Linked DNA regions of Homo sapiens: regions 2, 3 and 4 are each linked to region 1. The links come from fine-mapping of genetic effects on gene expression. A gene starts in region 1. Each other region holds a variant in brackets. All regions are shown on one strand. Distances are between the middles of the regions. Region 1 holds the start of TEK (TEK receptor tyrosine kinase). Region 2 overlaps TEK (TEK receptor tyrosine kinase). Region 3 overlaps TEK (TEK receptor tyrosine kinase). Region 4 has its middle 53 kb from the start of EQTN.

What was found. PIP is the estimated chance that this variant, and not a neighbour inherited with it, causes the effect.
Region 2: its variant is fine-mapped to the expression of TEK in whole blood (TOPMed, PIP 0.97).
Region 3: its variant is fine-mapped to the expression of TEK in whole blood (TOPMed, PIP 0.90).
Region 4: its variant is fine-mapped to the expression of TEK in whole blood (INTERVAL, PIP 0.99).

What each region holds. Positions count from the first base shown.
Region 1 is chr9:27,106,628-27,111,779 of GRCh38, reverse strand. It overlaps TEK (TEK receptor tyrosine kinase), which reads right to left and starts at 2,555. Exons shown (of 23, transcript NM_000459.5): 1 at 2,138-2,555. The coding sequence starts at 2,189.
Region 2 is chr9:27,189,900-27,195,051 of GRCh38, reverse strand. It overlaps TEK (TEK receptor tyrosine kinase), which reads right to left. Exons shown (of 23, transcript NM_000459.5): 10 at 4,362-4,523; 11 at 2,429-2,563. Among named protein-coding and RNA genes, the nearest start is that of TEK, 83 kb to the right of the region's middle. The variant C/T (reference allele first, on the strand shown) is at 2,373.
Region 3 is chr9:27,224,601-27,229,752 of GRCh38, reverse strand. TEK (TEK receptor tyrosine kinase) reads right to left here. Exons shown (of 23, transcript NM_000459.5): 22 at 1,448-1,547; 23 at 1-595. The coding sequence ends at 521. Among named protein-coding and RNA genes, the nearest start is that of EQTN, 70 kb to the left of the region's middle. The variant G/A (reference allele first, on the strand shown) is at 3,056.
Region 4 is chr9:27,241,228-27,246,379 of GRCh38, reverse strand. It overlaps the pseudogene REXO6P. Among named protein-coding and RNA genes, the nearest start is that of EQTN, 53 kb to the left of the region's middle. The variant TG/G (reference allele first, on the strand shown) is at 2,496.

The DNA of each region.
Region 1 (5,152 bases):
ATATACAACTTTTTAAAGAGAACAGCCTGGTTTTATGAGGAAGAGTAGGGAAAAGCTAATATAATAGAACCTGTTTGAAAGCTGAAGTTAGCAATGATTCTCAATTCAGAAAAGGAAAGCAACAGAATCTAGGAGTATTTGTAAGGAGCTTCTGAGAGCTACACATCCCCTCCAGCCCTCTTATGGGTAAACAACTCTGTCATCCAGAGCCACCTTCACTAAAAAAAAGTGGCTTTTTTTTTTTTTCAGTCTGTGGGTTCAGAAAAAAGAAACAAGAAACAACCCACTGGACTAGAGAGATAAACCTTTAAGCCATAAGCCCCTTGCTCCACTGCTTTAGTCTACCAGGAGTTTGACTAGAGGAACGGGCTCCTATGGCTGTGGACATTATCTAGCTGGATTCTTGTTGCAATTATCAAGCCTTGAGCAGTCATGCTCATGGAGGCTTAGACTAGGAATGCAAGCTACGATCAAGACAACAGACCTACCTCAGAAACTAACCTTGCTAGTGTCACCCTTCCTAACAAGAACATGAACCTACTTCCTCTCCTTGGTCCTCTGCCTTTTAAAGGCAGTGCTGTTTTTTCCAGGGATCTGAGGTCTAGACATGGAACAAGTATTTTGGCTACATACCTTTTTGTTTGATTTTATGACAATTCTTCTAAGCCTGTATTGCAAAGTGCTATAACACAGTTGCTTTAGGAGTAAAAAAAGTGAATGAAAACAGTTGTGTGTGTATTAACCTACAAAGTACCTCAGAGAAACTATAGACACCTGGGCTTCACATCACTATAATCCCTGGTATAGAGTAAGTTCCAGATTTCATGTCACTGGTAAATAATGGCACTCAGAAAAAAAAAAATCAAAAATGGAATCATGATAATTATTTGAAGTACATATTATTGGAGAAGTCAACATTATTTAAACAATTTCCACATAAATACTGAAGCCACCTAAAATCTTTTAATTTTTAGCAACTTGTGTTACACATTCTTAAAGAATATTATTAAATTCTCAAAATATTGGTTGTTGAGAGCTATAAAACAAACTGTATTCAACTCAGTTATTTCATTGGATTTGTTTTTTGAATATTTAATAAAATAGTTCAAACACCTAGAAAATATAGCAGATACTTATGTATACTCGAATCAAATTATATTAATATGCCCTATATCCATGAAGTTTAGTGAATTTTCCCAAATTCATCTCCAATATCAATTCGATTTTCGTTATTAAAATTAGAATGTTTTCAAACCGAAGGGGAGAGACTGATGGCAATGATAAATGTATTTGTGATATGTAGTTCAGGTTTGGATACTGCCTTCTACCTATGTCACATAGGCTGAGTGAGCTACAGAGGCACACCACTATCTGGAGTATCTAAGCAATAAACACGCTGAACCCAACACACTGGCCAACCACTCCTTCACTCTACAACAGGCTTCATATACTCTCCTGTGTTAAAGATTTTGGTAACTGCCTAAATTTTTGTTTCATTGGGCCAGTAAACCCTTTATGAATTACTACATGGCAAACATTTTTTAAAATAAAACAAAAATTCTAATAGCCCCAATCTCCCTGACCCTAACTACAAGAAAAAAAAAAAAGCCTACAATTTCATTGCTTTGCTTAAAATAGGATGTAGATATAAAATCTTTTTACAGAAAAGCATCTTTGTTCCCTTTTAACAGTGACAATCTATACACTGCCTTAATTGGGCCCCTGTATTTCTCAGCATGAATTTCATTTTTTACTGAAGATTTTCTTTAAAGCAGGTAAAACCGGTTTGTTCTTTAAAAAAAAAATCAATAAGAAAAACACTCCAGAATGAGGAGCAGGAAAATAATGCATGATAGTAAGGGGATCTCTTCAAATAAGATGATTTAATCGGTCCTCAAAGAGTTTCTAACACAGGGGCCAATCACCCAGAAGACAAACTAGCAAAATCAGTTCATGCCACAGAGCCTTTGCATTTCAATCCTTCCACACATATTGACTGGAGACTCACAGAGAAATGGTGCCTTTGCTACAGCCACCCCTTGTTCATCAGCACTGATGAGATTTGGGGAGAGCACCCAGAAATCACTAACTCTGTTTTTTAAAATACTAAATTAAAAAAAATAAAGCCAAACCTTACCAGAAAGGAGCAAGCTGACTCCACAGAGAACTAAGCTGGCTAAAGAGTCCATGCTTCCCCAAATCTCTCCATCCAGTTTCCACAAATGTGCATGAGGTCCCAAGGATCCTTTCAAAAACCCAGCGGTTTGTGACTTTCCATTAGCATCGTCCTACTACGTCTTGTTTACAAGTTAGAGGCAAGAAGGAACAGCACAGAAGCAGGCTGTAACAGTCTCATTTCTGTCTGAGCACAGGGAGTTTTAAGTTCCTTTTTCCTGTTTCCTTTGTAGATTAGGATGGGAAAGGCTGTATCTTAAAGGCATTTGGTATCAGCAGGGCTGGGGGCACTCAAGCCCTATCCATCTCGCAATTCATCAAAACACTTATCTGTTGCTGTTGCTTCTGCTGCTGCTTTTGCTGCTGCTGTAGGGGCAGAGGAATTTTTGTTGGAAGTGTGGGTCCCGGTCAGCATTTTCAGAAACAATAGGGGTATCCTCTCATAGGCGGGAAACTGAGAATAACAAGCCCTCCACCTATGTATGGTATGCGATGATGACCAATCCTTCTCAGACTTCTAACAGCTCTCCCGGGGCTACTGGGATCTCTGACAGAAGGAGCTTTTGGGTGTGGGAAGCCGTTTTGGCTTTTGTTTTCTCATTTTAACCCACATGGTTTGAATTGGGAGAAGAAGGTTTCCGTGATGAGAAAATACAACCTGAAAAGCAATTAATTTCAGTGAGCACCGGTGAGGTCAATGCTCAATGTAGCCCCAAGAGACCAGAGTCCAAAATTGTTAGCCTGTTTTCTTTCACACAGATGGCCTGTTGGTTGGCCATTAGCCCAAAGATACCCATGTTGCCGGCTATAGCTTTAATTTTCATTAACAATTCATCTAAAGGTGATCAAATTTCTTGAAGAAGTTGGCATAGAAGGATTTTGGTAATGAGAAAGATTTGGTAGTCATTGAGCAATGGTGTTTCAGAAGCAAATTATATATAACATTTAAAAACTAATCTGTGTAAAAACACAAACATACAGGATTAGATTGGGATAAAAATGGTGCTCATGAGAGCAAAGAGAGTTCATGGACCAAAATGAAAATAGCCATGGAATGTACAATATCTAGAATGAGGTCAGAGACCCTACACTTATCCAGATAATTACTCCACAATATGAATTATGACATTAGATTAGAGAGTATACACTTTGCTCATCATCGACCTTCATGCCTGAGGAAATCATTATACTCCTCCTTTTCCTACCCACCAGAGGAAAAGGCAGATGCAGCTAGTCTTGACTAATTTCTGTCCCAGGTTTTATCACATCGATGATGATCTTAAGAACCAATTAATGTTTCCAGTTTGCAGGTGTGAAAAAGCCCAGGTTCTGTCTGCAAACAGAACTGGGTTCAAATACTGGCTCAGCCACATGTGTAGCTGAGAAAAGTTACTTAGTCTTTTTGAGCCTCAGTTTCAACAGCTGTGAAATGGCAAAAATATCTCCTTCCCAGGTGTTTTGAGAGGAATAAATGAGGTTTAAAAATATAAAACCATTTGGTACTATGCCTAGTTCTTTGAAGGTTCTCATTAAATGTTAATAAGTTTATTTTCTTTCATCTTTCCATTCAGTCTCAATTTAAATTCCAAGAGCTTCTACTAAAAAGCTATTTTCTATTCCTATGAGATGACTTTAAATTTGTCATCACGAAAAAAAAAAACAAAAACAGTGGGCCTGGCACAGTGGCTCACGCCTATAATCCCAGCACTTTGGGAGTGGATCACCTGAGGTCAGGAGTTTGAGACCAGCCTGGCCAACATGGCAAAACCCCATCTCTACTAAAAATACAAAATTTAGCTGTGCTTGCTGGCGTGCACCTGTAACCCCAGCTACTCTGGAGGCTGAGGCAGGAGAATTGTTTGAACCTGGGAGGCAGAGGTTGCAGTGAGCCGAGATCGTGCCACTGCACTCCAGCCTGGGTGACAGAGCAAGACTCTGTCTAAAAAAAAAAAAAAAAAAAAGAAAAAAAAGAAAGAAAAATGAAGTTCCACACAGGCTAAGTTACTTGCTCTGCTGTGAGTAGCAGAGGTAATAATATCTGAATCCTGAGCTCTGGACCTCCAATTTTTCCCTTGTTTCATAGTTGAAAAGTAGATCAAGAGTAATGTAGGACATCACAAACACCAGCAGGGTACACCTAGACCTTACAGAAGTATTTGAAATGAAACTTTGACAGATAAGAATAGTTTGGTGACACTGAGAAGTGCGGTCAGTTCTTAGTGTGCTTCTGAAATAACTAATGTCAGGATCGGTGGGTGCTGTATTAATTCACTTCAGGAAAATGAAAGGGGCCTCCTCATGAGTCAAGCTCATTCCATTTAATTTGATTTTTCCAGACATACCTACAGTAAAAGCATAAAGAAAACCAAACCAAACTAAACAAACAAACAAGGCTCTTGGCTGATTCTTCATTTTCTATTTCCTGCTTTTTGCACTCAATACATGAAAAACACTATAGACAACATTAAAAGTCTTTGAGACTAATTAACAAAGGTATCAATAGATAACAAAACGGTTTTTCTGAAAGAGGTGGAAAATAACTTACATAATACTACTATACACTGGTATCACATGTCAAGAGGTCAACATCACAAACACAAAGCAAAAGCCTTGTATGCATACCCTTTGGCCCAGAAAATCCAGTTTTTTTTTTTTTTGAAATAGAGTCTCACTCTGTCGCCCAGGCTGGAGTGCAGTGGCACTATCTCGGCTCACTGCAACGTCCGCCTCCTGGGTTCAAGCGATTCTCCTGCCTCAGCCTCCTGAGTAGCTGGAATTACAGGCGTGCACCACCACACCCGGCTAATTTTTATACTTTTTAGTAGAGATGGGGTTTCACCATATTGGCCAGGATGGTCTTGAACTCCTAACCTCATGATCCACCCCCCCCCCCCCTTGGCCTCCCAAAGTGCTGGGATTACAGGTGTAAGCCACTGCGCCCCACCAGAAAATCCATTTTTATGATATACACCAAGCC
Region 2 (5,152 bases), 83 kb before region 1:
TTGATATTTTGGAGAATACATTTACACCTCCTAATCCTGTGCCTGGTACAGAAGAGTAACTCAATAAATAGTCATTTCCCCTTTTCCCGCCCTTTGGGAACATGATTACCCCATACGCCTCCCTGTCTGCCCCTTTCTGCACTATGTTCAGAAAGTGTTCTCTTCCTTCCCCTCCCGGACTCCCTGGCCTTCACCATCTCAATCAACACACATAAACAGTGCAACTGCCAGACGAAATGAAAAGCAAACAGCAGCAAAATTCAAATGATGGGAAAAGAAGAACCTTCAATAATCCCCTTCCCGCCTACCCCTGAGAACTACTTTGAAATATTCTGAGAGACCTCCTGGCTGCAACACATTCTGAGGGCTGAAGACAGTACAGTGTGGGGCTGTGAAGTGTTTTATGTTCTGTTCCATAAATACTTTCCATCTGAGTCAGTTTATGCTCTTCCCCTCTTGACTCACCAACAGTGACTTGAGAGAGAATTAACTACCATTTGCCTTTTAGCAGTAACATGATGACATATCAGGGATCCCTTGGGTCATGGTTGTAGAGGTCCCTTTTTCCTCTCTATATAGTTTCTGGGTTTATTTTTTATATTCACAACCAGGTGGGTCCCCAAGCAGCCATTTCTTACTTGTGTGTAATGCTTCTATAAGTCTCAGAGTAGCTTTTGAGTCTCATTTGGTTCTTTAAGGATGCTGCTAGTAACATAAAAACTAGGTGGGTGGTGTGAAGGAAGGATGTTTCTGTTAAGGGTGCACAATCTCTGCAGAAGAAAAGTGGATGTTCTTCCTGGTTTTTTCACTCAATCATAACATATCCTTCTACTTTTAGTAAATGGAGTAAAACACAGGCAAATATGTGAACTGGGATAATAAGCTGGTGCCTTTGGGATTCTAGGTAGAAATAATAATTGGAGAAACAAAAGGATATGGAGCCTGGACTGGGAGTGGTGACTCATCCCTGTAATCCTAACACTTTGAGAGGCCAAGGCTGGGGGACTGCTTGAGGCAGGAGTTTAAGACCAGCCTGGGCAACAAAGCAAGACCCCGTCTCTACAAAAAAAATTTTTTGAAGTAGCCAGATGTGGTGGTGTGCCTGTAGTCCCAGCTACTCAGGAAGCTGAGGTGGGAGGATGACTTGAGCCCAGGAGATAGAGGCTGTAATGAGTGTTGATCAAACCACTGCACTCTCCAGCTTGAGTGACAGAGCAAGATCCTGGCTCTAAAAGACAAAGATATGAAGCCCGAAGATTTAGTATGGTGATGCATCTTACTGTTATTAAGTACTCTGAGTCTCTACTTTTCAATCTGTAAAATAGGGAAGATGATAATTCTTACTTTCCTAGGTGATATAAATCAAATATATATGAAGTTGAAAGTATAAAGTACTGACCAAGAGAGAGTAACAGAATGGTTATACACAGTGAACAATTCAAAGAACCAGGAATGGAACCTTACAAAAGATCACTCCAGTATTTCAATGGAGGGTACCTGGGTAACAGAAAGCTGGAGGTCAGGTTAGCATCAAGGAGGCTTCACAGAGTTAATTAACGCAATAGAAGGCCAGTCAATACCAAACACCACTGAGAAGTCCAGAAGTAATTTTACACATGTTATCTAGAACGTGTGGACCCAGGACCAGCAGCATCACTTGGGAACCTACTAGAAATGCAAATTTTTGAACCCCGGCCCCATCCTCACCTCAAAACCATTGAATCCGAAACTCTGGGGACGAGGCCCAGAAACATCTTTTAACAAACTCTCTGAGTGATTCTGATGGACACTTAGGTTTGAGAACCACTGATTTAGAAAAGGGAGGTAAATATAAGAAATAGCTTAAGGAGATGAAAGTGGCTACCTATAGGAAGCAGGACTGGGAGGTGGAGGGTGGAGCAGGAGAATGCTGTTCTTTAGATAAAAGCTTCTTATTCTATTTGATGTCATGACTCTGACCATGAATTACTTTGAAAAATTGGAAATTATTTTTGAAAATAAATAAACTGGGACTTCTAAAATATGCCTGTGGCAAGAGCCTGGTCTGGGCCCTTAAGATGGAAACAGGAAGCCAGTGATAAAATGCAGGAGCTGAAGCTCAGCACAGTTGCTGCTGTGTAAATCCCAGCTCCTAGGGGAGGCCCTGCCTTCCTGAAGGCTCATCTGCTTCCTTCTCTGTCCCTACAGAGTGCTGCAGACCTCCTCCCCCAGGGAGACAGACCAGGAGTCCAACCCAAATAAAGGAACAGTTTGGCTTGAAGTTGCTAGCCTTCCTGTCACTTTCCCACCCATTCAAAAGCGAACTCCTGCCACCTCCATCCCCACCCACCCACTCACCCACCACCACCCTTCCTGGTCTTCCTTCCTCTTTC[C/T]CCTTCCTCCCCCTCCCACCCAGCTCATGAATAAATGCCTGTTGGCTTCCACTGACCGATAGAAGCTGTTGTGAAGCGTCTCACAGGTCCAGGATGCCCTTCCCCACCCTCTCCACGACGGACCAGTTGCACACAGAGTTCATATTCTGTCCGAGGTTCCAAATAGTTGAGTGTAACAATCTCATTTGTCACTGAGAAGAGAAAACGTCCAGGAAACTTAAGTTGGCATTCTCTTACATTCCTTAAGCCGGGGTTGTTGTTATTGCGATGTGAACTAATTTTAGGTTTTCAAAACTACGTCTTAGTGAAACAGAGAGGCAATTCCATCTTCAAGGCCTCATCCTTCCCAATATGAGGAAAATTAGGCTTTTGAAATGTTTCCAGGTTACAATGTACACATTAAAGTGTGTATTTCTGTGCCACTTACACATTTCTGCTCTGGTGCTTTTGTCTTTTCATTTGTAGAATAAAACCTCACAAATCTATATGGAATACCAGATTGGGGGAATACTCAATTAGAATAATTTAATTGCTACTGTTTTCAAGTATGTACACTGATTGCAATCAAGCTATCGAGAGAAAAAGATGCTTAGGAGGTTTGCTCAAAATGACCAGAAAACTGATTTGCAATGGTCATACTATTACAATGAAGCATTCTGAAGTCCTTGAAAATAGCACCCATAAACAAATGGTATCTGTCTCTTTTCTCCTTACCTATTTGCTTTAGTCAGCCTCTGTTTCTCCATGGATACTGCAAAGATAAATTTCTGCCTTATCATATGATAAATTCCTACTTGGTAAGAAAAAAAACTGGGATGTGTTTAACAGTTCTTAGAAGACCACTTTGTGGATGTCCACTTGTAGACAAAGGTGATGGATTATTACCACCATATGACAGCAAAAGACCTAGCCATTGATGTTGGAAACAGCAATTCAGCAAATCAGCCTGACATCCCTGGAATTCTGAATTTTGATAGAATCTACAATAGTATGTGAAGGACTCAGTAATAATACCATTTTATTCGGTCTACCCAGGTCAGCTAGTGTTATTCAGCCCAAAACCCTCCTCCTCTTCTCTTTTTTTTTTTCCATAGTTTTCTTAATTATCTCCATATAGTGAATAGAGGGTCATTTTAAGGAAATCATAGGCATAGTAAGACAAAGGTATGGGCGGAGGAGGACATGCTGCCTACAAGCATGTTAGTGGCAGGTCTTTTTACAGAATAGTCCAATTGAAGCAGCATGGTCACTGATAATGCTCTTTGCTTTTTAAAATTGTGATTTTACATTATCATACAACAAATATAATTGTAATTTGTGTTTCAAAATAAATTCAACTGTTTTCATGAACTTTTGGCATTTTGTCACATTTTGTTCAATTATTTTTTTCTTTCAGGAAGTTAGGGGAGGGGTCTGTAGCTCCCTTTGCCTGTCCTTGTCCTCCCCCGAGCCCATTCCAGTCTGCCACAGCCCAAACTTTGCAGGTTCAAATTCCTTCAAAAATCTCTCTGTGTTAAGAGTCTGCAGGACAGGGCAAGACATGAAATGAGAAAAGGAATAAACAACTCAATACAGCAGCAACAATCACCCCCAGGATTTAGGCAGATTAAGCCTCTCTGCCCTTCCAGCAGGCTCTGGACTTTCCTGCTACCATATTCATGGCATAAACAAGTGCCTTTCCCCATGACCAGCCAAGATAGAATAACTAAAAACAGGACTGGAGATCCAAAAAGAAATATTGATATAGATAGTAACTCATGGTGTGAGCTGGTTCTGTGTTCTAGAGCGCACAGTGACTTCAGAAAGTTAGCCCCAGAGCTCAGGGGCCCCCTGCACTCTCTCTTGAATACTCTGAAACAGAATCCTCTGCAACAGCCACCACCTTGAGGTAGAGGATTGAGGCAGGGAGAAGGGAATTTCTAGATTTGGAGAAAAATAATTCTCCTGGTGCCACATCCCCAGCTGGCATCTATCCTGTCCAAAGCTTACCTTGAATATGTTGCCAAGCCTCATAGTGATTAACGGGTTTGTATAGAAGCTTCTTGGATTTGATTGGTCCATCCCCAAAGTAAGGCTCAGAGCTGATGTTGATGACAGCAAAGTTATGTCCAGTGTCAATCACGTTTGGGGCATTCAGGGGCTTTGGAAGAACTAAATACAATTTCAGAAGGCAGATTAGTCCTTCGGCTTTGAGGTTTTGTGATTGTTCTTAGGTAGAGGTAGAAGATATGTTTTACATGTCCAACAAAGTCCTCTTAAAGTTTTCTGCTCAGACTCAGTGAGATCACCTGCTCTCTAAGCTCTCTGCTTTGCTTTTGCTTCCCCAACCCATTATCCTCAAAGTGCTTCCTTAAAATAAATGTGCCCCTTTGCTCAAGACCCTTCAATGGATTCTCATCACATGTAGGATAAAACCAAAAATTCATATCGTGACCAGCCAGGCCTTGAGTGATTAAGCCCCTGCCCACTCTCCAGCCTCCTCTTCCCCTCACCTAGTACCCTCCAGTCCCACTGACCTTTCACTTCATCCAACTAACAAAGCACGAACCTCCTTTCTTTAGATTGATTGTGGATGTCTCTCTTCTGCAAGGAATGCTCCACCTCCCATTATTCTCCCAGTTAATTCTTAGCTCTGATGTGAATATTTCACAGGTGGCTATCATAGAAACTGAATTAAGGTATTGTATACTTTCACAGAACCTCTACTTTTCCTTCATGGTGATTTTTAGGGGTTATTACTCTTTGTAGTATGATTATTTGATTATTTGATATTGGTCTTT
Region 3 (5,152 bases), 120 kb before region 1:
AGAGAAGAATCTGATTTATATCACTTAGATTTTTCAGTGTCTTAAATATTAACCTATGACTTGTTAGAATTCATATAGTTCTCTCACTTAACCTGTACTATCAGGGTCATTGTTAGGTTTATTAACAATATTTTACTTTGACACAGGAAAACATTTAATAGCATTCAACATAAAGGTAAATATCAAAATATCTAGGACAACAATGAGTTATGCATTATACTAATTGTACTCACGCCTTCCTATGAAGTCCACATTTTTAAAAAAATATATTATTGCATATGAAACCACAAACAGGCATTCTGATTTCAGCCCATTCTTAAAACAGTATATACAGTCCTATTAGAGTCAGAGCATACTACATAGATCCATGCATGGGATCTACAGTGGTGAAGGTCCCAGGTGTACAGCACATATGTACACTTATATATCACATCCTTTGGCAGAGGCATGTTTTCTCAGCAGGTGTCAAGGGTCTCCCATGCCAGTGAAAGGGAAACAGAGGGTATACAGATGTTCTGTCCTAGGCCGCTTCTTCAGCAGAACAGTCAATTCCTGCATAAGTAAACTTCTCATAAAGCGTGGTATTCACGTAGGTCTGGAAGAATGAAAATGGTTCAGAGACATAGGCTGCTTTGATTCCACCTCTGCCAGCGGCAGTTACAGCAATACCTTGGTTTTCTTAGTTTGTTGCAACTCATATACTAAGCACTTGGGGGATACTTTTCTGTCCTCAGTCCCTCTGTTGTATTTGATGACTTTCTTCCTAAAATGCATCCCCTTGCGTTCTGCAAGTAAGATTTCATACTGTATCCTCAGTTTCTGAGCTTGCCTTTCTCACAGTGTCTTATTGGTACCTCCTAATGTGTTCAGCTTCCCTAGGGTTCCTTCTTCTGGGTTCCTTCCTCTGTCTGAATCTCATTTTCACATCTGTGTGATCTCACCTGCATCTCTAGTTGAATTACCACTTGGGTTTTGATGACTATTTCTTTAAACTGTGTTTACTTTTATTTTGACTCCCAGATCGGTACAGCCAACTTACTTCTAGAAATTTTTATGGAGTTCCTGACCCTCATTATAGTAACCTGCAGGTCAGGCTCTGTTGTCTACTTGCTGTGTGTCCTTGGTCAAGTCACCCACTTCTGAGTCTGTTTCTTCATCTATAAAATTAAAGGGTCAGGCTATATGACGAAAATTCCTTCCAACTCTAATAGGCTAATTCTGTATGTTATTCTAGTGTGTACGTGACTGTATCTTGTATAGAAATCTTATTTCCCCCCAAAATTGTAACTTCTTCAAAGTCGCGGGGGTGGAGGGACATCCTTTGTTTCTATAATACTTAGGGCCATGCCAAGAAGAACTTCTTCAATTATTTCAATGTTTTTTATGAACCACCCTGGGCACATCAGGTATTCCAATTAAAGATCTCCTGCCTGACTTTAATACTTACCTTTCGCTCCTCTAACATTCTGTTTAAGGACACCAATATCTGGGCAAATGATGGCCTCTCATAAGGCTTCTCCCGCCAGCATTGTCTCATTAGATCATACCTTCGAAAGCAAAGAATTAAAGGGTTAATTCTATAACTGTGCTTCAGTCCTAGGCACGGCAGGAAAAGAGAGGAGAGAATGAAGCCACCCAATGCATGGTTATGAAGCTTAACCAAAGTACAGCCCCTAGGAAGTTTCTATGAGGACTCCCACCTCCCTAAGCCAGTCTCATTTCAACTCCTCATAGATTTAGTTCCTACCCTCGGTACTGTTTCTGCAGGACCTTGGTCTCAGCTATTGCAATCATCTAGAAAGAACTGGGTATGTGTCTAGAGCAGCATTTGCCTTGGAATGCTGCATATTTCAAAATGTTAGTGTCTCTTAAAGGGCCCATGCTCAAACTTGTAAAATGCCACCCACATAAAGTCCCTTTAAGAGGCAGGACTTTTAGAAGCACTGTCATTAAAAACAAAAAAATGCCTGTTTAACCAGGTGCTATGGACTGAATGTTCATGCCACCCAAAAATCATGTGTTGAAACCATGTGATGGTGTTTGAAGGTAGGTCCTTTGGGAGGTGATCAGGTCATGAGGGTAGAACCCTCATGAATGGGATTCGTGCTCTTACACAAAAGGCCTCAAAGAGCTCTTTTGCCCCTAGTGCCACGTGAGGACACAGCAGAAAGATGGCCATCTATGAGCTAGGAAATGGCTCATGGCCACCAAATCTGCTAGCGCTTTGATCTTGGATTTCCCAGCCTTCAGAACTGTGAGAAATACATCTCTGTTGTTTATAAGCCACCATGTTTATGGTATGTTGTTACAGCAGCCGGAAATGACTAAGACAACAGGTTTAACACAAAGTTTCCAAAGTAATTGACCGCAGAACTCCTTTCCCCTTGCATCATGTATTTATATCTTGCACAACACGTGAAAACATAGTTTGGGAAACACTGACCTAAGACAGTGCTTACTCAGTTGTGCTCAGAACTACTCTGTTATTAAAATGCAGAATTCTGGAACCTGCCCTAAACTTACAGAATCAATGACTGACAGTGGGGACCAAGAGCCCACATGCTGAACAAATGACTCTGGGGAACCTTATGTGCATGGAAGGCTATCAACCATTGGCTTAGGGTGTCACAGATCCCAGAACAGCTTACACTTTAACATAAGTTTCTTAAAGACTAAAAAATCTTCTCACCCCTTATGAAGTGAATCTCAAAAGGTGGAATTTTAGGGACTGTCTAGTGATGGTCAACTATGTCCAGGTTTTTCCAGGATGGTATGTATGCTTCTTGCTCCAGTGAGATTAACACCCTCCTTCACTCTTAGAAGTAGCTCCATTTAGACAATAAATTATCTGCTCAACCTAGAGCCTTGCAGTCTTCAAACATGCCAGTTAGCTTCTACCACGGATAGTTCTGGGAATGCTGGTATCACTACAGTTCATTATTCTTACCCTTGGAATAAATCTTACTTTTGAAAGTAATCTTAGCAGAAGCAAGGTTCTAGGCAAGAAAATGTATCTTTATTTTTTTATTATTATACTTTCAGTTCTGGGATACAT[G/A]TGGAGAACATGCAGGTTTGTTACATATGTATACAAGTGCCATGGTGGTTTGCTGCACCCATCAACCTGTCATCTACATTAGGTATTTCTCCTAATGCTATCCCTCCCCTAGCCCCCACCCCCCGATAGGCGTGTGATATTCCCCTCCCTGTGTCCATGTGTTCTCATCCTTAAACTCCAACTTATGAGTGAGAACATGCAATGTTTGGTCTTCTGTTCTTGTGCTAGTTTCCTGAGAATGTTGGTTTCCAGCTTCATCCATGTCCGTCCAAAGGACAAGAACTCATCCTTTCTTATGGCTGCATAGTATTCCATGGTGTATATGTGCCACGTTTTCTTTATCCAGTTTATCATTGATGGGCATTTGGGTTGGTTCCAAGTCTTTGCTATTGTGAACAGTGCTGCAATAAACATACGTGTGCATGTGTCTTTATAGTAGAATGATTTATAATCCTGTGGGTATATTCCCAGTAATGGGATGGCTGGGTCAAATGGTATTTCTAATTCTAGATCCCTGAGGAATCGCCACACTGACTTCCACAATGGTTGAGCTAATTTACACTCCCACCAACAGTGTAAAAGCATTCCTATTTCTCCACATCCTCTCCAGCATCTGTCATTTCCTGACTTTTTAATGATTGCTATTCTAACTGGTGTGAAATGGCATCTCATTGTGGTTTTGATATGCATTTCTCTAATGACCAGTGATGATGAGCTTTTTTCATGTTTGTTGTCTGCATAAATATCTTCTTTTGAGAAGTGTCTGTCCATATCCTTTGCCCACTTTTTGATGGGGTTGTTTTTTTCTTGTAAATTTGTTGAAGTGCTTTGTAGATTCTGGATATTAGCCCTTTGTCAGAAGGATAGATTGCAAAAATTTTCTCCCATTCTGTAGGTTGCCTGTTCACTCTGATGGTGGTTTCTTTTGCTGTGCAGAAGGTCTTTAGTTTAATTAGATCCCATTTGTCAATTTTGGCTTTTGTTGCCATCGCTTTTGGTGTTTTAGTCATGAAGTCTTTGCCCATGCCTATGTCCTGAATGGTATTGCCCAGGTTTTCTTCTAGGGTTTTTATGGTTTTAGATTTTACGTTTGTCTTTAATCCATCTCGAGTTAATTTTTTATAAGGTGTAAGGAAGGGGTCCAATTTCAGTTTTCTGCATATGGCTAGCCAGTTTTCCCAACGCCATTTATTAAATAGGGAATCCTTTCCCCATTGCTTGTTTTTGTCAGGTTTGTCAAAGATGAGATGGTTGTAGATGTGTGGTGTTATTCCTGAGGCCTCTGTCTTGTTCCTTTGGTCTATATATCTGTTTTAGTACCAGTACCATCCTGTTTTGGTTATTGTAGCCTTGTAGTATAGTTTGAAGTCAGGTAGCTTGATGCCTCCAGTTTTGTTCTTTTTGCTTAGGATTGTCTTGGCTATGCAGGCTCTTTTTTGGTTCCATATGAAATTTAAAGCAGTTTTATCTAATTCTGTGAAGAAAGTCAATGGTAGCTTGATGGGGATAACACTGGGCAGTGTGGCCATTTTCACAATATTGATTCTTCCTGTCCATGAGCATGGAATGTTTTTCCATTTGTTTGTGTCCTCTCTTATTTCCTTGAGCAGTGGTTTGTAGTTCTCCTTGAAGAGGTCCTTCACATCCCTTGTAAGTTGGATTCCTAGATATTTTATTCTCTTTGTAGCAGTTGTGAATGAGAGTTCACTCATGGTTTGGCTCTCTGTTTGTCTGCTATTGGTGTATAGGAATGCTTGTGATTTTTGCACACTGATTTTGTATCCTGAGACTTTGCTGAAGTTGCTTATCAGCTTAAAGAGATTTTGGGCTGAGACAATGGGGTTTTCTAGAAATACAATCATGTCATCTGCAGACAGAGACAGTTTGACTTCCTCTCTTCCTATTTGAATGCCCTTTCTTTCTTTCTCTTGCCTGACTGCCCTGGCCAGAACTTTCAATCCTACGTTGAACAGGAGGGGCGAGAGAGGGCATCCTTGTCTTATGCCGGTTTTCAAAGGGAATGCTTCCAGCTTTTGTCCATTCAGTGTGATACTGGCTGTGGGTTTGTCATAAACAGCTCTTAATATTTTGAGATAC
Region 4 (5,152 bases), 130 kb before region 1:
AAATATCAGAGCTTTCTTGGGGTAAGACACAAGTAAAGAAATGAAAACTATTACACCATTTTAGAAGCATTGACCATACGACTTTCTCACCCAATCTCAGATATCATTTATTATTCTCACCAGAACTATACAGCTTTATGTTTTGGGTAAATTTTATCTACTTTTTAAAACCATATAAACTTGTGCCTAAAGTTGTTCTTTTATTTAGAGAGATTACTTTTTTTTTTCTTTTTTTAACCATTCGACATTTCTGGCTTCTAGGCAGATGTCTTGCTTTGGTGATCCCTCCACTTTCTTCTCATACCTCCCTGGGAAGGAGATACACAGCTGAGGGTACCGATGTGCTAGCCAATCATTGCAAGGTAGTGATAATGTGACAGAGGAAAGACTACCTAGAAAAAGAACAATGTTTGTTAATCTAGTACATTCATGTAAAACATTTATAAAGCAATCATTGGAGGTTGTATTAGGTATTAATGATATTTCGATAGGTGAGCAGTGTTAACTTTGTTAGAAACATAAATTGAAGGCTTAATTTTGAGAAATATGTAAGTAACATCAGAGATTATGGTTGTCTTATGTCTAACACTTTAAAAAATATTCTGTACTATTTGGAGGTCACAATGCTAGTGAAAATGCAAAAGCCTGCATGGATCTGGTCATTTGGAAGGTAAAAGAAGACGTGAAAGGAAAGAAGTAGTCACCTTGCCCAAGAACATCTTTAATTTCTGAATTGCTGTTTCGGTGACTTCTCTGGCCCCTACTACTGGCAGTAGAGTTTGGTCGATGATGGTATGGGGTTTCTGGACACTTTCAAAGAGAAGAAGAGGAAAAGCGCTGTTGAGGTTGAGTTACTACATTTTTTTATTACACTTTAAGTTTTAGGGTACATGTGCACAACGTGCAGGTTAGTTACGTATGTATACATGTGCCATGTTGGTGTGGTGCACCCATTAACTCGTCATTTAACATTAGATATATCTCCTAATGCTATCCCTCCCCCTGCCCCCACCCCACAACAGGCCCCGGTGTGTGATGTTCTCCTTCCTGTGTCCATGTGTTCTCATTGTTCAATTCCCACCTATGAGTGAGAACAGGCGGTGTTTGGTTTTTTGTCCTTGTTATAGTTTGCTGAGAATGATGGTTTCCAGCTTCATCCATGTCCCTACAAAGGACATGAACTCATCATGTTTTATGGCTGCATAGTATTCCATGGTGTATATGTGCCACATTTTCTTAATCCAGTCTATCATTGTTGGACATTTGGGTTGGTTCCAAGTCTTTGCTATTGTGAATAGTGCCTCAATAAACTTACATGTGCATGTGTCTTTATAGCAGCATGATTTATAATTCTTTGGGTATATACCCAGTAATGGGATGGCTGAGTCAAATGGTATTTCTAGTTCTAGATCCCTGAGGAATCACCACACTGACTTCCACAATGGTTGAACTAGTTTACAGTCCCACCAACAGTGTAAAAGTGTTCCTTTTTCTCCACATCCTCTCCAGCACCTGTTGTTTCCTGACTTTTTAATGATCGCCATTCTAACTGGTGTGAGATGGTATCTCATTGTGGTTTTGATTTGCATTTCTCTGATGGCCAGTGATGATGAGCATTTTTTCATGTGTCTTTTGGCTGCATAACGTCTTCTTTTGAGAAGTGTCTGTTCATATCCTTTGGCCACTTTTGGATGGGGTTGTTTGTTTTTTTTCTTGTAAATTTGTTTGAGTTCATTGTAGATTCTGGATATTAGCCCTTTGTCAGATGAGTAGATTGCAAAAATTTTCTCCCATTCTGTAGGTTGCCTGTTCGCTCCAATGGTAGTTTCTTTTCCTGTGCAGAAGCTCTTTAGTTTAATTAGATCCCATTTGTCAATTTTGGCTTTTGTTGCCATTGCTTTTGGTGTTTTAGACATGAAGTCCTTGCCCATGCCTATGTCCTGCATGGTATTGCCTAGGTTTCCTTCTAGGGTTTTTATGGGTTTAGGTCTGACATTTAAGTCTTTAATCCATCTTGAATTAATTTTTGTATAAGGTGTAAGGAAGGGATCCAGTTTCAGCTTTCTACATATGGCTAGCCAGTTTTCCCAGTACCATTTATTAAATAGGGAATTGTTTCCCCATTGCTTGTTTTTGTCAGGTTTGTCAAAGATCAGATGGTTGTAGATATGCGGCGTTATTTCTGAGGGCTCTGTTCTGTTCCGTTGGTCTATATCTCTGTTTTGGTAACAGTACCATGCTGTTTTGGTTACTGTAGCCTTGTAGTATAGTTTGAAGTCAGGTAGTGTGATGCCTCCAGCTTTGTTCTTTTGGCTTAGGATTGACTTGGCAATGAGGGCTCTTTTTTGGTTCCATATGAACTTTAAAGTAGTTTTTTCCAATTCTGTGAAGAAAGTCATTGGTAGCTTGATGGGGATGGCATTGAATCTATAAATTACCTTGGGCACTATGGCCATTTTCACATTGTTGATTCTTCCTACCCATGAGCATGGAAT[TG/G]TTCTTCCATGTATTTGTATCCTCTTTTATTTCATTGAGCAGTGGTTTGTAGTTCTCCTTGAAGAGGTCCTTCACATCCCTTTTGAGTTGGATTCCTAGGTATTTTATTGTCTTTGAAGGAATTGTGAATGGGAGTTCACTCATGATTTGGCTCTCTGTTTGTGTGTTATTGGTGTATAAGAATGCTTGTGATTTCTGCACATTGATTTTGTATACTGAGACTTTGCTGAAGTTGCCTATCAGTTTAGGGAGATTTTGGGCTGAGACAATGGGGTTTTCTAGATATACAATCATGTCATCTGCAAACAGGGACAATTTGACTTCCTCTTCTCCTAACTGAATACCCTTTATTTCTTTCTCCTGCCTGATTGCCCTGGCCAGAACTTCCAACACTATGTTGAATAGGAGTGGTGAGAGAGGGCATCCTTGTCTTGTGCCAGTATTCAAAGGGAATGCTTCCAGTTTTTGCCCATTCAGTAAGATATAGGCTGTGGGGTTGTCATAGACAGCTCTTATTATTTTGAGATACATCCCTTCAATACCTAATTTATTGAGAGTTTTCAGCATGAAGGGTTGTTGAATTTTGTTAAAGGCCTTTTCTGCATCTATTGAGATAATCATATGGTTTTTGTCGTTGGTTCTGTTTATATGCTGGATTACGTTTATTGATTTGCTTATGTTGAACCAGCCTTGCATCCCAGGGATGAAGCCCACTTGATCATGTTGGATAAGCTTTTTGATGTGCTGCTGGATTCGGTTTGCCAGTATTATATTGAGGATTTTTGCATCAATGTTCATCAGGGATATTGATCTAAAATTCTCTTTTTTTGTTGTGTCTCTGCCAGGCTTTGGTATCAGGATGATGCTGGCCTCATAAAATGAGTCAGGGAGGATTCCCTCTTTTTCTGTTGATTGGAATAGTTTCAGAAGGAATGATACCAGCTCCTCCTTGTACCTCTGGTAGAATTCGGCTGTGAATCCATCTGGTCCTGGACTTTTTTTGGTTGGTAAGCTATTAATTATTGCCTCAATTTCAGAGCCTGTTACTGGTCTATTCAGAGATTCAACTTCTTCCTGGTTTAATCTTGGGAGGGTGTATGTGTCGAGGAATTTATCCATTTCTTCTAGATTTTCTAGTTTATTTGCATAGAGGTGTTTATAGTAGTCTCTGATGGTAGTTTGTATTTCTGTGGGATTGGTGGTGATATCCCCTTTATCATTTTTTATTGCATCTATTTGATTCTTCTCTGTTTTCTTCCTTATTAGTCTTGCTAGCGGTCTATCAATTTTGTTGATCTTTTCAAAAAACCAGCTCCTGGATTCATTGATTTTTTTGAAGGCTTTTTTGTGTCTCTATTTCCTTCAGTTCTGCTCTGATTTTAGTTATGTCTTGCCTTCTGCTAGCTTTTGAATGTGTTTGCTCTTGCTTCTCTAGTTCTTTTAATTGTGGTGTTAGGGTGTCAATTTTAGATCTTTCCTGCTTTCTCTTGTGGGCATTTAGTGCTATAAATTTCCCTCTACACACTGCTTTGAATGTGTCCCAGAGATTCTGGTATGTTGTGTCTTTGTTCTCATTGGTTTCAAAGAACATCTTTATTTCTGCCTTCATTTCGTTATGTACCCAGTAGTCATTCAGGAGCAGGTTGTTCAGTTTCCATGTAGTTGAGCTGTTTTGAGTGAGTTTCTTAATCCTGAGTTCTAGTTTGATTGCACTGTGGTCTGAGAGACAGTTTGTTATAATCTCTGTTCTTTTACATTTGCTGAGGAGTGCTTTACTTCCAAGTATGTGGTCAATTTTGGAATAGGTGTGGTGTGGTGCTGAAAAGAATGTATATTCTGTTGGTTTGGGGTGGAGAGTCCTGTAGATGTCTATTAGGTCTGCTTGGTGCAGAGCTGAGTTCAATTCCTGGACACCCTTGTTAACTTTCTGTCTCGTTGATCTGTCTAGTGTTGACAGTGGGGTGTTAAAGTCTCCCATTATTATTGTGTGGGTGTCTAAGTCTCTTTGTAGGTCTCTAAGGATTTGCTTTATGAAACTGGGTGCTCCTGTATTGGGTGCATATAGATTTAGGATAGTTAGCTCTTCTTGTTGAATTGATCCCTTTACCATTATGTAATGGCCTTCTTTGTCTCTTTTGATCTTTGTTGGTTTAAAGTCTGTTTTGTCAGAGACTAGGATTGCAACCCCTGCCTTGTTTTGTTTTCCATTTGCTTGGTAGATCTTCCTCCATCCCTTTATTTTGAGCCTATGTGTGTCTCTGCACGTGAGATGGGTTTCCTGAATAAAGCACCCTGATGGGTCTTGACTCTTTATCCAATTTGCCAGTCTGTGTCTTTTATTTGGAGCATTTAGCCCATTTACATTTAAGGTTAATATTGTTATGTGTGAATTTGATCCTGTCATTATGATGTTAGCTGGTTATTTTGCTCATTAGTTGATGCAGTTTCTTCCTAGCCTTGATGGTCTTTACGATTTGGCATGTTTTTGCAGTGGCTGGTACTGGTTGTTCCTTTCCATGTTTAGTGCTTCCTTCAGGAGCTGTTTTAGGGCAGGCCTAGTGGTGATAAAATCTCTCAGCATTTGCTTGTCTGTAAAGGATTTTATTTTTCCTTTACTTATGAAGCTTAGTTTGGCTGGATATGAAATTCTGGGTTG